Homo sapiens: one gene and its partners. The protein of the gene in region 1 interacts with the protein of each later gene in a pairwise test. Each region holds a gene or a part of one and is shown on either strand. Other genes may lie near its edges.

What was found.
Region 2: the proteins of GADD45G (region 1) and CFAP44 interact in binary tests that used the Homo sapiens proteins (3 or more experiments, as listed by UniProt).
Region 3: the proteins of GADD45G (region 1) and GRAMD4 interact in binary tests that used the Homo sapiens proteins (3 or more experiments, as listed by UniProt).

The regions. Positions count from the first base shown.
Region 1 is NC_000009.12:89,602,983-89,606,727, forward strand, and holds GADD45G (growth arrest and DNA damage-inducible protein GADD45 gamma), read left to right. Parts: upstream 1-2,029; 5' UTR 2,030-2,139; coding exon 2,140-2,192; intron 2,193-2,449; coding exon 2,450-2,551; intron 2,552-2,684; coding exon 2,685-2,898; intron 2,899-2,986; coding exon 2,987-3,097; 3' UTR 3,098-3,573; downstream 3,574-3,745. UniProt on the Homo sapiens protein: Involved in the regulation of growth and apoptosis. Mediates activation of stress-responsive MTK1/MEKK4 MAPKKK.
Region 2 is NC_000003.12:113,439,756-113,443,500, reverse strand, and holds the start of CFAP44 (cilia- and flagella-associated protein 44), read left to right. Parts: upstream 1-2,007; 5' UTR 2,008-2,048; intron 2,049-3,745.
Region 3 is NC_000022.11:46,672,380-46,676,124, reverse strand, and holds part of GRAMD4 (GRAM domain-containing protein 4), read right to left. Parts: intron 3,283-3,745; coding exon 3,128-3,282; intron 2,750-3,127; coding exon of another isoform or gene 2,627-2,749; exon of another isoform or gene 2,479-2,626; intron 2,456-2,478; coding exon 2,311-2,455; intron 1,469-2,310; coding exon 1,375-1,468; intron 658-1,374; coding exon 573-657; intron 1-572. UniProt on the Homo sapiens protein: Plays a role as a mediator of E2F1-induced apoptosis in the absence of p53/TP53. Plays a role as a mediator of E2F1-induced apoptosis in the absence of p53/TP53. Inhibits TLR9 response to nucelic acids and regulates TLR9-mediated innate immune response.

The DNA of each region.
Region 1 (3,745 bases):
AAGAAAGAAAAGAAACTAGCGAACAAACGGGGCATAATGCCGCCTGGCTCCGCTTCCCCCTCCCCTCTCCCCCCGTCCTTAGGAGACACCTCTGGAGTTCAGAAATGCTAGGAGAGCAAGCTCTTCATTCTTAGAATCCAGGAAGGGCCGGGCTTTTGCAGCTCTCCTCTGCCAGGAAGCCGCTGGGGGGCGCAAGACGCCAGCTTCTCACCTTGGCAGAAGTGCCTGCCTGCAAGCGCAGAATGGAAACTTCCCCATAACAAATTCAGAAGTACCTTGTACATTCACCACCCACCTGAAGAAAGCCTGAATGAAAGGAACAAAGCCACGGCGTTGTTTACTTTCCCATTATCGCCCCAGTCTTGCGGCAGGGCCCGGGTTTCCATCCAATCCACCCGGCCCGCCACTGTCCTGGCCAGTCTCCAAGGCTTCACCCAAAAAAAGGAAGCAATGAGGTGTCCCCCAGCGCGCCTTTTCACGTAGCACAGAAGGTGCTCAGTGGGTGAATCCTCTGAAAGTGCCAGCGTGTATGGTCAAACGGCAGCAACCTCTAGCCTATTAAACTCTCCCAAGATCTCTTCCAGACTTATTCCATTGCCGGAAAAAAGGCTTTTTACATATGCGCATTTAAGTAATTAAGATATTTCAACATGGTATAAGACGTAGGGGCTCTTACTCCATCAGTACTGGATGGGAATTTCCTTTTGCCCTCTACTCCCCAGGGTAACTGCAGTCCCACCTGAATGCGTTTTGCAGCCCTTACTCGGGTTCTATTTATGCGCAGCTTGGACAGGGCTCACTGGGCCCGGCCGGGCAGCTCCGTGGCCGTCCCTCTCCACCGCCCTTCCCCCGCGCCAGGCCAATGCAAGGGTGTGTGTGTTGGGGGGAGGGGAGGACAAAAGGGGTTCAGGATCTTTTTAACCTGCCTGCAGATGGCGCCCCGGGAAAGATTCCGAGCTGCATTACCTAAGCTCCAGGGGCTGCAGCCGCGGGGTCCCGGCCACAGGGCGTCCAGCCGCGAAGACTGCACAGCAGCTCTCCGTCCTTCCCAACTCGCGCGGCTGTTCGGCACCCGTGCGAGGAACGGATGGAAGGGAATTACTTGTAGCAGGGCCAGTACTGGGGGCGTGCACTCAGGGACCACGGAGTGGCACTCAGCCTCGACCCCACGCGCCAGGCAGCCCGGCGACCCCCACGCGCGGCGGGGTCCTGCCCACCCCACCCGGCGGCAGGTGGACAGTGTTGCTATGAAGAGAAAGCCTCGATTGTCCCTACAGCAAACCGCCACACGCCAGACCTCTGCTATTGTGCGCCCTCCATAGAAATGCAAACGAGCGGCGTGCGCCGGCCGCAATCTGCTCGTCCCCGCCCGCCCCCGTCTCCCGCGCCCCGCCGCGCTCGGCCAAGGGCGGGGAGGTGGGGTGGGATCTTCCAGAGACGGCTCAATGTACACATTGAGTATGCCTGGCAGGCATCACCAGCGCGCTCGGGACGCTAGTGGTCAGCTGCAGGGGGCTGTGCCCACTGCCTTTTGCAAGCCTCTAACTGGCGCTACCTGTTTTTACCTTAATTTCTGGCTCCAATGCAACAGTCTCATAGACTTCAAATTAAAGAAAAGAAACAAATAGAAAGGTAGCAATACAAAATGCAAAAAAAAATCCCTTTGCTTCTATAAAGGTGCTTTTCGCAAATTGCAGCATCATATAAGCAAACAAGGTTTTTGTGGGTTGGGTTTTTTCTTTTTTTTTTTTTTTTACTTTTTCCTTTTAAGGACTTCAAAAAAAAAAAAAAGCCAGGCGAGATGAAATCTGCAGGCTCCAGTCTGCCTGGTAACACCCCAACAAAAGCGGCAGATTTGAGGCATTGTCATCCCCCGCACCCCTCCCCACGTGGCCTTCTGGCACGAGCCGCTGGCTCGCCGCCTCATTTACATCAGAAAGCGGGTGCCGGCCAATAGGCGCGCAGCCTCGCGCCAGCTGGCGGCGCCGCACCCACCAGCCTATATAAGGGCGCGCAGCGTAGTAGGGGCGCACTCGCTGGTGGTGGGCGCGCCGTGCTGAGCTCTGGCTGTCAGTGTGTTCGCCCGCGTCCCCTCCGCGCTCTCCGCTTGTGGATAACTAGCTGCTGGTTGATCGCACTATGACTCTGGAAGAAGTCCGCGGCCAGGACACAGTTCCGGAAAGCACAGCCAGGTGGGTTTCAGGGCGCTGAGAAAGCCGCTGGTCGGTCGGCGACCGTCAGGGTTTTCCAGGGTGGGAATCCGCGGGGTAGGAGGGGAGCGCGGGGGTCCGGGCGCCAGATCCCGGTTGGAGAGCCGGGGTGCAGGCGCTGAGCCGGGATTGGAGTGTGGTTGGAGTTGGGGAGCCAAGGGTGTGTGCCGGTGGCCGGGGCTGGGGTCTCCGCCGCGCCCTCCGGCCGGCTCCCGCTCACTGCGCTGGCTCCTCCGCAGGATGCAGGGTGCCGGGAAAGCGCTGCATGAGTTGCTGCTGTCGGCGCAGCGTCAGGGCTGCCTCACTGCCGGCGTCTACGAGTCAGCCAAAGTCTTGAACGTGTAAGTGTAGACGCGGCCCAGGCTGGGAGACAGGGGCGGGGGTGAATGGCGAGGAGACTGGCGGATGGGAGGGGTGGCGGCGGGAGAACTCGGCTAGCCGGTTCTGACCTAGGTCCCCGCCTTGCCCTCGCAGGGACCCCGACAATGTGACCTTCTGTGTGCTGGCTGCGGGTGAGGAGGACGAGGGCGACATCGCGCTGCAGATCCATTTTACGCTGATCCAGGCTTTCTGCTGCGAGAACGACATCGACATAGTGCGCGTGGGCGATGTGCAGCGGCTGGCGGCTATCGTGGGCGCCGGCGAGGAGGCGGGTGCGCCGGGCGACCTGCACTGCATCCTCATTTCGGTGAGTACAGTCCCGTCCTGTCCCCGCCCCAGTGTCGTTCCCGCCTCGGCCCGCGGCCAGCCAGGCTGACCCTGCTCTCTCTCCGCAGAACCCCAACGAGGACGCCTGGAAGGATCCCGCCTTGGAGAAGCTCAGCCTGTTTTGCGAGGAGAGCCGCAGCGTTAACGACTGGGTGCCCAGCATCACCCTCCCCGAGTGACAGCCCGGCGGGGACCTTGGTCTGATCGACGTGGTGACGCCCCGGGGCGCCTAGAGCGCGGCTGGCTCTGTGGAGGGGCCCTCCGAGGGTGCCCGAGTGCGGCGTGGAGACTGGCAGGCGGGGGGGGCGCCTGGAGAGCGAGGAGGCGCGGCCTCCCGAGGAGGGGCCCGGTGGCGGCAGGGCCAGGCTGGTCCGAGCTGAGGACTCTGCAAGTGTCTGGAGCGGCTGCTCGCCCAGGAAGGCCTAGGCTAGGACGTTGGCCTCAGGGCCAGGAAGGACAGACTGGCCGGGCAGGCGTGACTCAGCAGCCTGCGCTCGGCAGGAAGGAGCGGCGCCCTGGACTTGGTACAGTTGCAGGAGCGTGAAGGACTTAGCCGACTGCGCTGCTTTTTCAAAACGGATCCGGGCAATGCTTCGTTTTCTAAAGGATGCTGCTGTTGAAGCTTTGAATTTTACAATAAACTTTTTGAAACAAACTTATGCTCTTTATTGAGGGTAGGGGATCTTTGTGTCGGGGGAGGTGGCGTGCAGGGTTTCAGAGGATTGCTGGAACTCCGTGGAACTGATGGCACCTGTTCCGTCTTCCTGTCGGGCAAGAATGACAGGCTCCTCCCCTCTGGCAGAGGGAGGGCATGCTGCCCAGTGCTA
Region 2 (3,745 bases), on another chromosome or scaffold:
ATGCTTCCTCCTCTCCCAGCACCTTTACAGATGAGGATGCTGAGCCCTAGAGGTGAAGAAAGTTGTCTAATGACAGAGTGCTTGTAAGAGGTAAAGCCAAGACTTGAAGCTCTTTCTTGCAGTTACTGGATTTCTCCTAATTTACGGGAACTAATACAGTACAGTAGCTAAGGATGCAAGTACTGAAACCAGAAATCTTGCCTCAAATGCCATTTCTGCCACTTGAGCTGTGTACTTTGGACAAATTAATCTAATCTTTCCCATTTGAAAGTCAGACATAATGTCTTCCCTAGAGGCTTGTGAGGATTAAGTGAGGCAAGTGTATGTAAATGGGCTGAGATCAGAGCTTGGCTCACAACACTCAGTAATGATCACTGCCAATTTTTTTTGGTATATAAATAAATAAATACACTATTTCCCCCATGTTTCCAATTTTTAAGACATTGTATAGTGAATTTATTGTATCTTTCTCAGATTAACAATTGCACACAGTGCTTGAAATTTAGAGGTATTTCACCTGAAAAGATGTCTAGAGATTGAAAGAAAACATGCTGGGCATATGATTTGAAAATATAAATAACATGCTATTTAAAAATAAGTTTACCCTATGTTTTCTATCTTTTCTGGCACCTAGATATACCATTTAATAAGTAATAGCAAGGATAATCATTTTTTTAAGCCCTGGAAAATCTTGATTAAAGAGGACATTTCAGTATTGCAAATAAATGCATGGTATTTGTGTAACATTGTGGAAACTAATAAACACAAATTGTATTATAGCAATTTTTTCTTGCCAATTTTATTGACAAATAATTTATATACAATAAATGACATCCATTTAAAGAGAACAGTTTATTGGCTTTTGGCAGTTGTATATACCCATGAAATTACCACCACAATGAAGACACAGCATTTCTATCATTTCTAAGATTCCTTGTGTCTCTTTCCAGTGCATCTCACTAAGTCCTAGGCAACCACTTTGCCCAAGTCTCTAGACTATCTTGGATGTGGAATGACTTTGTGTATGTTTAACTTTTGAAGAAACCTCTCAAATAGTTTTCCAAAGTGGTTATGCCATTTTACATTCCCAACAGCAGTGTATGCGAGTTCCAGTTGCTCCATATCCTTCTGCATTTGGTGTTAGCAATCTTTGAAGTTTTACCCCTTCACGTGGATGTGGAGTTATGTGTATTGTGGTTTCTATTTCCCTTATGACTACTTTTAAGCATCTATCCATGTGCTTATTGGCCATACATATATCTGATTTGGTGAAGTATTCAAATCCTTTGCCCATTTAAGAAATTGGGTGGTTTTTTCTTATTGAATTATAAGAGTTCTTTATACATTCTGTATACAAAGTCCTTTGTCACATATTGGAATGACCATTTTAAAACAAGTATTTGGTAACTAATAACGTTAGGCTAGGTACTTTAAAAAACAATATGACCACAGTACTACAGAGAGGTTGAACAAACTGCTAAACCTAGAAATCTGTCAAGGGAGGCCTATACTTTTGTGCCCAGAGCGCTGCGACCAAGAAACCCACAACATAAAACCTGATTTACTCTTAAAAGCCAACAGAGATAATATAGTTTTAAAAATAACAAAAATCCCACGATGTATCTTTGTTGTTGATGTTGCCGGCAAGCTGCCTACTATCTCCCAGGACCCCTCTTAAAATCGAAGTTAAAACCTCAACATAGGAACGCCGCGATCAGGGCTCCGTTGGGCCATTTTGGAATATCAGGCAGGTATCTTCGACGGTATTCATGTCATTTAATTATCTACATGACGTCCTTTAGGGGATAATAAACTCGTCGGGCTTTTCTGTTTGGCTTTGAACCAGTGTCATGAGGCGGAGAAGGCCCGACCAAAGGGCGGATAGGTACCGGGTTCCCGGAGAGCTGGACGCCGGCCGCGCATGCGCCCCACGGCCCGCCCTGGTTCCGCCTCCCTGGAAGAGGGGTGGCGTTGTCTCGGTAACCGGAGTAAACGGAGGCCTCCGGCAGACGCTGTGAAGAGAGGAGCCGCGGCGGTCAGTACCTTCGGTGAGTTTGGACCTCAGCAGCCGGCAGTTTCCACACCCTCCCCCTTAAATCTGTGGCTCAGAGGGCAGTGAACCCCACTTGGGCTTCTCTCAGGCTGGACCAGTGTTATAGCCTTCGTCCTCCCTGCGGTAGCTCAGCAAACTTTTGAAGCCACGAGTATTCTCAGGCTCGGAGCTAGACACTGTGTGCACGGTTCCTGCCTGCAAGACCCTGTCAGTCTGACCGGGCGGAAGCCAGCCAGGCAGCAGGAGCACAGCTTAGACCCGGCCAAGTCAGAGCAGCAGCGAGTCAGCTGGGAAGGTGCTGGGGCTCCCCGCTCCAGTGAGACACCTGCCCTGCGCTCAGCTGGGTGCGACGCTTGGCACGCTGGGCCCTCTGCACTTCGGCTTCCTCATCTCCAGAAAGAAAGGTGATAATGTGACCTCATGGAGTTATTATTAAACAGGATAATACAAGTAAAGTGCTTAGCACATGCATGACACATAGTAGGTGCACATAAATATTTGTCGGATAATAGGTAAAGACAGTCGCATACATGTGTGCTGCTCAGTGTGTCCAGTCTATCATGAGTTGCTAAGGGTGCGTACTGATGAAAATCTTTGAGAGGAGAAGGCTAAGGAGGCTAGGGAGAGAGAGAGGGTGACTGTAGCTGGGCTGCAATAAGCTACAGACCCTCTGACAAGGGACCTTTACACCAGACCGAGGAATCTGAGCTCTTATTTGATAGCAGTGATGAGCCATTAGAGGTTTTAAGCAAGAGTGACACATTAAAAGCTGTGTTTTAGAAATACAAGCGATAGTGTAGAAAATGGGTTACAGAAGGGAAGACAAAGTATGACGGTACAGTAATGGTAGAGGTGAGACACAGTGAGGACTGGAACTACAGAGGGACAGCAGGGACAGTAGGAATGAAGGGAGGGGAGGAATTCAAAAGGCTTAATCACTGGACACCAAGTAACAGGACTTGGAAATCATCTACATGAATTGGGTGAGAGGAACGGATTCAGAGTAAATACGCTGCTTTCTCATCTGTAAAATAATGACAGTAATAATAATGGATAGCAAGACTTTGTCTCAAAAATAATAATAATAGGCTGTGCGCGGTGGCTGACGCCTGTGATCCCAGCACTTTGGGAGGCGGAGGTGGGTAGATCACCTGAGGTCAGGAGTTCGAGACAAGTCTGGCCAACATGGGGAAACCCGTCTACTAAAAATACAAAAATTAGCCGGGCGAGGTGGTGTGCGCCTGTAATCGCAGCTACTCGGGAGGCTGAGGCACGAGAATCGCTTGAACCAGGGAGGTGGAGTTTGCGGTGAGCTGAGATCGCAGCACTGCACTCCAGCCTGGGTGACAGAGCCAGACTCCATCTCAATACATAAATACATAAATAAAATAATAATGGTACCTACCTCATAGGGTCGTTTTGAGAATTGTACGATAATATGTGTAGAATTTCTTAGAACTGTACTTGACACATAGTAAACATTAAAAAAGACAAGCTATTACTTTTTTTCTCCACAGCTGTATTTCACATTGCAAAGTAAAAACCGAGAGTCTGTTTTATACATCAGTCACTGTGAATCTTAAATAACCACCTCTGGCACACTGCTGGGATTGAGTGAGCTTGTGAGCATGAGGACCAGAACCTGGACTCTGGTGAATGAATCAGAGTAATGTCACCTTAGACAGCACTCTG
Region 3 (3,745 bases), on another chromosome or scaffold:
TGCCAATGCGGACATGCCCAGGACGCTCGGAGCTGGGAGGGAGCTGGGGGCCCTGACCACTCGGGCCAAGTGTGCCTGCCAGTGCCTCACTGAGCCTTCCCTGCCCCAGAAAACAAGGGACCACAGGCACTTGTGGCCACGCCCACCTGCTCATTCCATGCTACGGTAAAATGCTGAGAAAATGCCCAGAGCGGGCGCGACCATCTGAGCTCCCACCTGAAAACCTGCATCCGAGGCAGGGGCTCAGGGCCCCTGTGCTTTTCTTTATGGGGAGGGTCCCAGATACGAGGGGAACACAGCAGCCAGAGTGGGGCTTGGGTCCTGACCTCCTGGGCTCCAACCCAGCCCCTCCACTTTGAGACACACGGTCCAGGCAAGTGGACCCCAGGGCAGGGGCAGACCCACAGGGACATGGGGACTCAAGTCAAGGAAACGGACCATGGCCGGCCAGCGTGGCCGCGGCGCCCAGATGCTGACAGAGGCTGGCAGAAGTCTATAGGGAAAGCCTCGCCAGCCTCTGTCAGGTGACGAAGAAAACACGGGGGTTAGTGGGGGTGGGTAGGTGCACCAACCTTCTGGATGTCCGTGATGTCCACTAGCTTGATGACTTTGTTCCTCTTTGAGGACCCAGATTTGGAGCTTTCGAAGCACAAGTAACTGGAAGGGGAACGGACAGAGGCGTCGCCTGGCTCTTGAACCAGAGCACGCTCCCACCAGGTGGGGGTCTCCCGGGGCTGCCTCTCAGCCCCCAGTGGGATGGACAGTGGTGCTCCCTTCCCAGCAGACACAGAACCGGTGAAACACTCACGGCCACTGCTCTATATGAGACACTCACGGCCACTGCTCTGTGTGAAACACTCACAGCCACTGCTCTGAGACACTCACGGCCACTGCTCTGAGTGAGACACGGCCACTGCTCTGAGACACTCACGGCCACTGCTCTGAGTGAGACACTCACGGCCACTGCTCTGCATAAGACATTCACAGCCACTGCTCTGAGTGAGACACTCACGGCCACTGCTCTGCATGAGGCACTCAGGGCAACAAGGACTCAGGGCCTCAGCAATAGCAGGTCCCCACACGGTCCCCTCCTTGGGAGACTCTGCCCCTCGTCTCCATGAACTGCTTGGGCCCCAGAGAAGACAGCATCCCCGCCAGCCTGAGGGATGGCAGCAGTACAGCCCAGGCCACGTCCGGCTTGGAGACAACACCTTTTCCCTGGGAGCCCAGACAGCCGGCAAGAGCAGAGCATGGGAGAGGCCATGGCCACCACTCAGGAAAACCTGCACTGGGCCAGCCACGCCATCCCAGGGCCTAGGCAGCCTCCTGCGCCCCCTCCCCTGCAGCCACACAGGGCCCCACGGCTGCACTCACTTCTCCGTGACGTAGAGCACCCCGTTCCTGATGTAGTCCGTGGGCATCTTCCGGTCCCTGTTGATGAGGCAGCAGCGCCAGCCATTCTCGCACACTAATGGGAGAAGGCCCGCCTGTCACACTTTCCACTGGAAGTACCCAGCCTCTGACCTGACGCTGGGACCCAGGAGCCTGACTCTCAGATCCTGACATCCGCCCACCGCGCTCACGTCACACCCACAGTGAGAGGAAGGCGCGCCGGCAAGAGTGAGGTGGCCCCAGAGGGTGGAAAACAGATGTTTCCTCTTCAACAGGCACTGGCAGGGTTTTTAAAGTAAAAGCACCCAGGCAGAGCAGGGAGCAACAGAAGTCACAGTGTGGCCGGGACACCACCTCCAAGACCGGCAGGGTCAGGGCGCTGGGACACCACCTCCACCAAGACCGGCAGGGCCAGGGCTCAGCAGAGGACGAAGCTCCGTTCTCCGCAGCTGCCTCTGCAGCCGCTCATCACACACCTCGAGCTGCCCGGTTTAGTTTAACAGGCCCTCCCTTTGGGAAAGCTGACCTGTCCCCAGGATCCTGAGTCACCTGTCCCCTGGTGGCTCTTGTTTCTCCAGACACGATGGAACCAGGGGCAGACCCCCTGCCAGCGCCCTGCAGGCCCTGAGGCCTCGCCCTGGACTCTCTCCCCAGTGTGTTGCCTGCACGCCTGCTGTCAGGGGAGTGCTGCAGCGTGGGCGGCTCTCCCCACGGGCACGCCCTCCTCCCCTGTAGCCCGCAGAGTCCTCATGACCCCTGGCTCCTGCACTCCTCCTGGGGCAGTGGGATGTGAATGCCATCCTGAGGGCTCCTCTGGCCTGTCACAGGGCGACCCCGTCCTGCATCCACAGCGCCCCCCTCACGGGCCTTCAGTCTGTGTCGGCGCTCGGCCTGGCCTCAGACTCACGGCACACATACCCGCCAGCGGACGCTCGTTTTCTGTCAGATTGAAGATCTCGTGGAAATTGCCCTTCTTGGTGCTGTGGAAGCGACCGGCGTCCTCCTCTTTACCCAGGCCGGCCGGTGCGCTGGGTACGTAGCTCCGTGACGAGGTCGTCTGCAGCTGCCAACGGCAAACAGCGTCGAGGTCAGGCCCGCTGCCCACGCCTGCAGCACCCAGATGTGCTGGCCGCACACACACCTCCCCAAAAGCTGGGATCCAAATTTGGGAAGACGTTCCCGAGGTCCCTTCCGGCCCAGAGCGGCTCCTTCTTCCAGGCAGGGCCACCTCACCTCAGTGGGGAGAGCCCAGCAACCCTCCTGACTCATCTGAGCCACCCCGAAGGGAGCACCGAGGCCTGCTCATTCCCCGTGGTCCTGGCTGGGATGCTGTGCTGCACATCTGGAGGGCCTGTGACTGTGAATGAAATATGGCCCAGTGCCAGGCTGTGGCTCCAAGGGGGCCCTTCTCAAACTGCCTGGTCTCAGCGCCAGAGCCTCACTGTCAGGGATGGCAGGGGCCGGGCACCCCCATGGAGTGGTCACTCCCAGGCCTGCTGGCTCTCAGTCATCATGGCCAGTCCCCAGGTGTTGCCCTGGGCTTGGGAGGGGCTGGATGAGCCTCAGAAACCGCAGTGGTAACAGGGAAAAAAAAAACCCTCAAGTTTAAGGAGTCTATAAAATTGAAGAAACAGCCTCTAAATGAGCCGGAGGTGAACAGAGCACTGTGGGCCTGGGGATGCCCGGCTTCGTGGCCCCCCATCCCCCCATCCCCGCAGCTGGGGGCCGGGCTCACCCTGCGTGAGACTGCGGCGCTGGAGCGCTCCTTGAGCTGCGGGTCGGTGGGGAGACTCCTCCAGATGATATAGGGCGTGTCGTACTTGGCGCGCAGCCTCGGGCAGCGTTTAAAGATGAAATCAATGAGGAAGAACTTGATACCAGCATAGAGTCCTGAGGGCAGGGGACACAGCCTGCTCCATCTAGAGCTCTGCAGCTATGCCAGTCTACTCAGGGTGATGGTTCCGGCACCTCCCACCTCCCAGATTGGCACCCTCCACCCTGAGCCTGGATGTGAGAGTCCAGCTGCTCGCTCAGTCCTCACCCTGGATACCCCCAGCCTCGCTCCCCTGGGGCCCATTCGTGCTGCACAGTCTCAACCCCAGGCGAGGGCCCCACTGCCAGCGCCCCACCCACTCCCACTAAGACCCCTCAGCTCTGCTAGGACCCCCCCATCCAATGCCCCTCACTTCTCTCTCCAACTCCGCCTGGCTCAGGGCTGTTCTTGACCCACCTGAAACACTTCAGGACTGTGCCTCCTCTGCCCCAATTCCCCACACCTGACACCAAATCTGAGGTCCCTCCATGGCAATCCCTCCCCAAACCCCCTCCCACCTGCCCTTCTTCAACTGGGTGC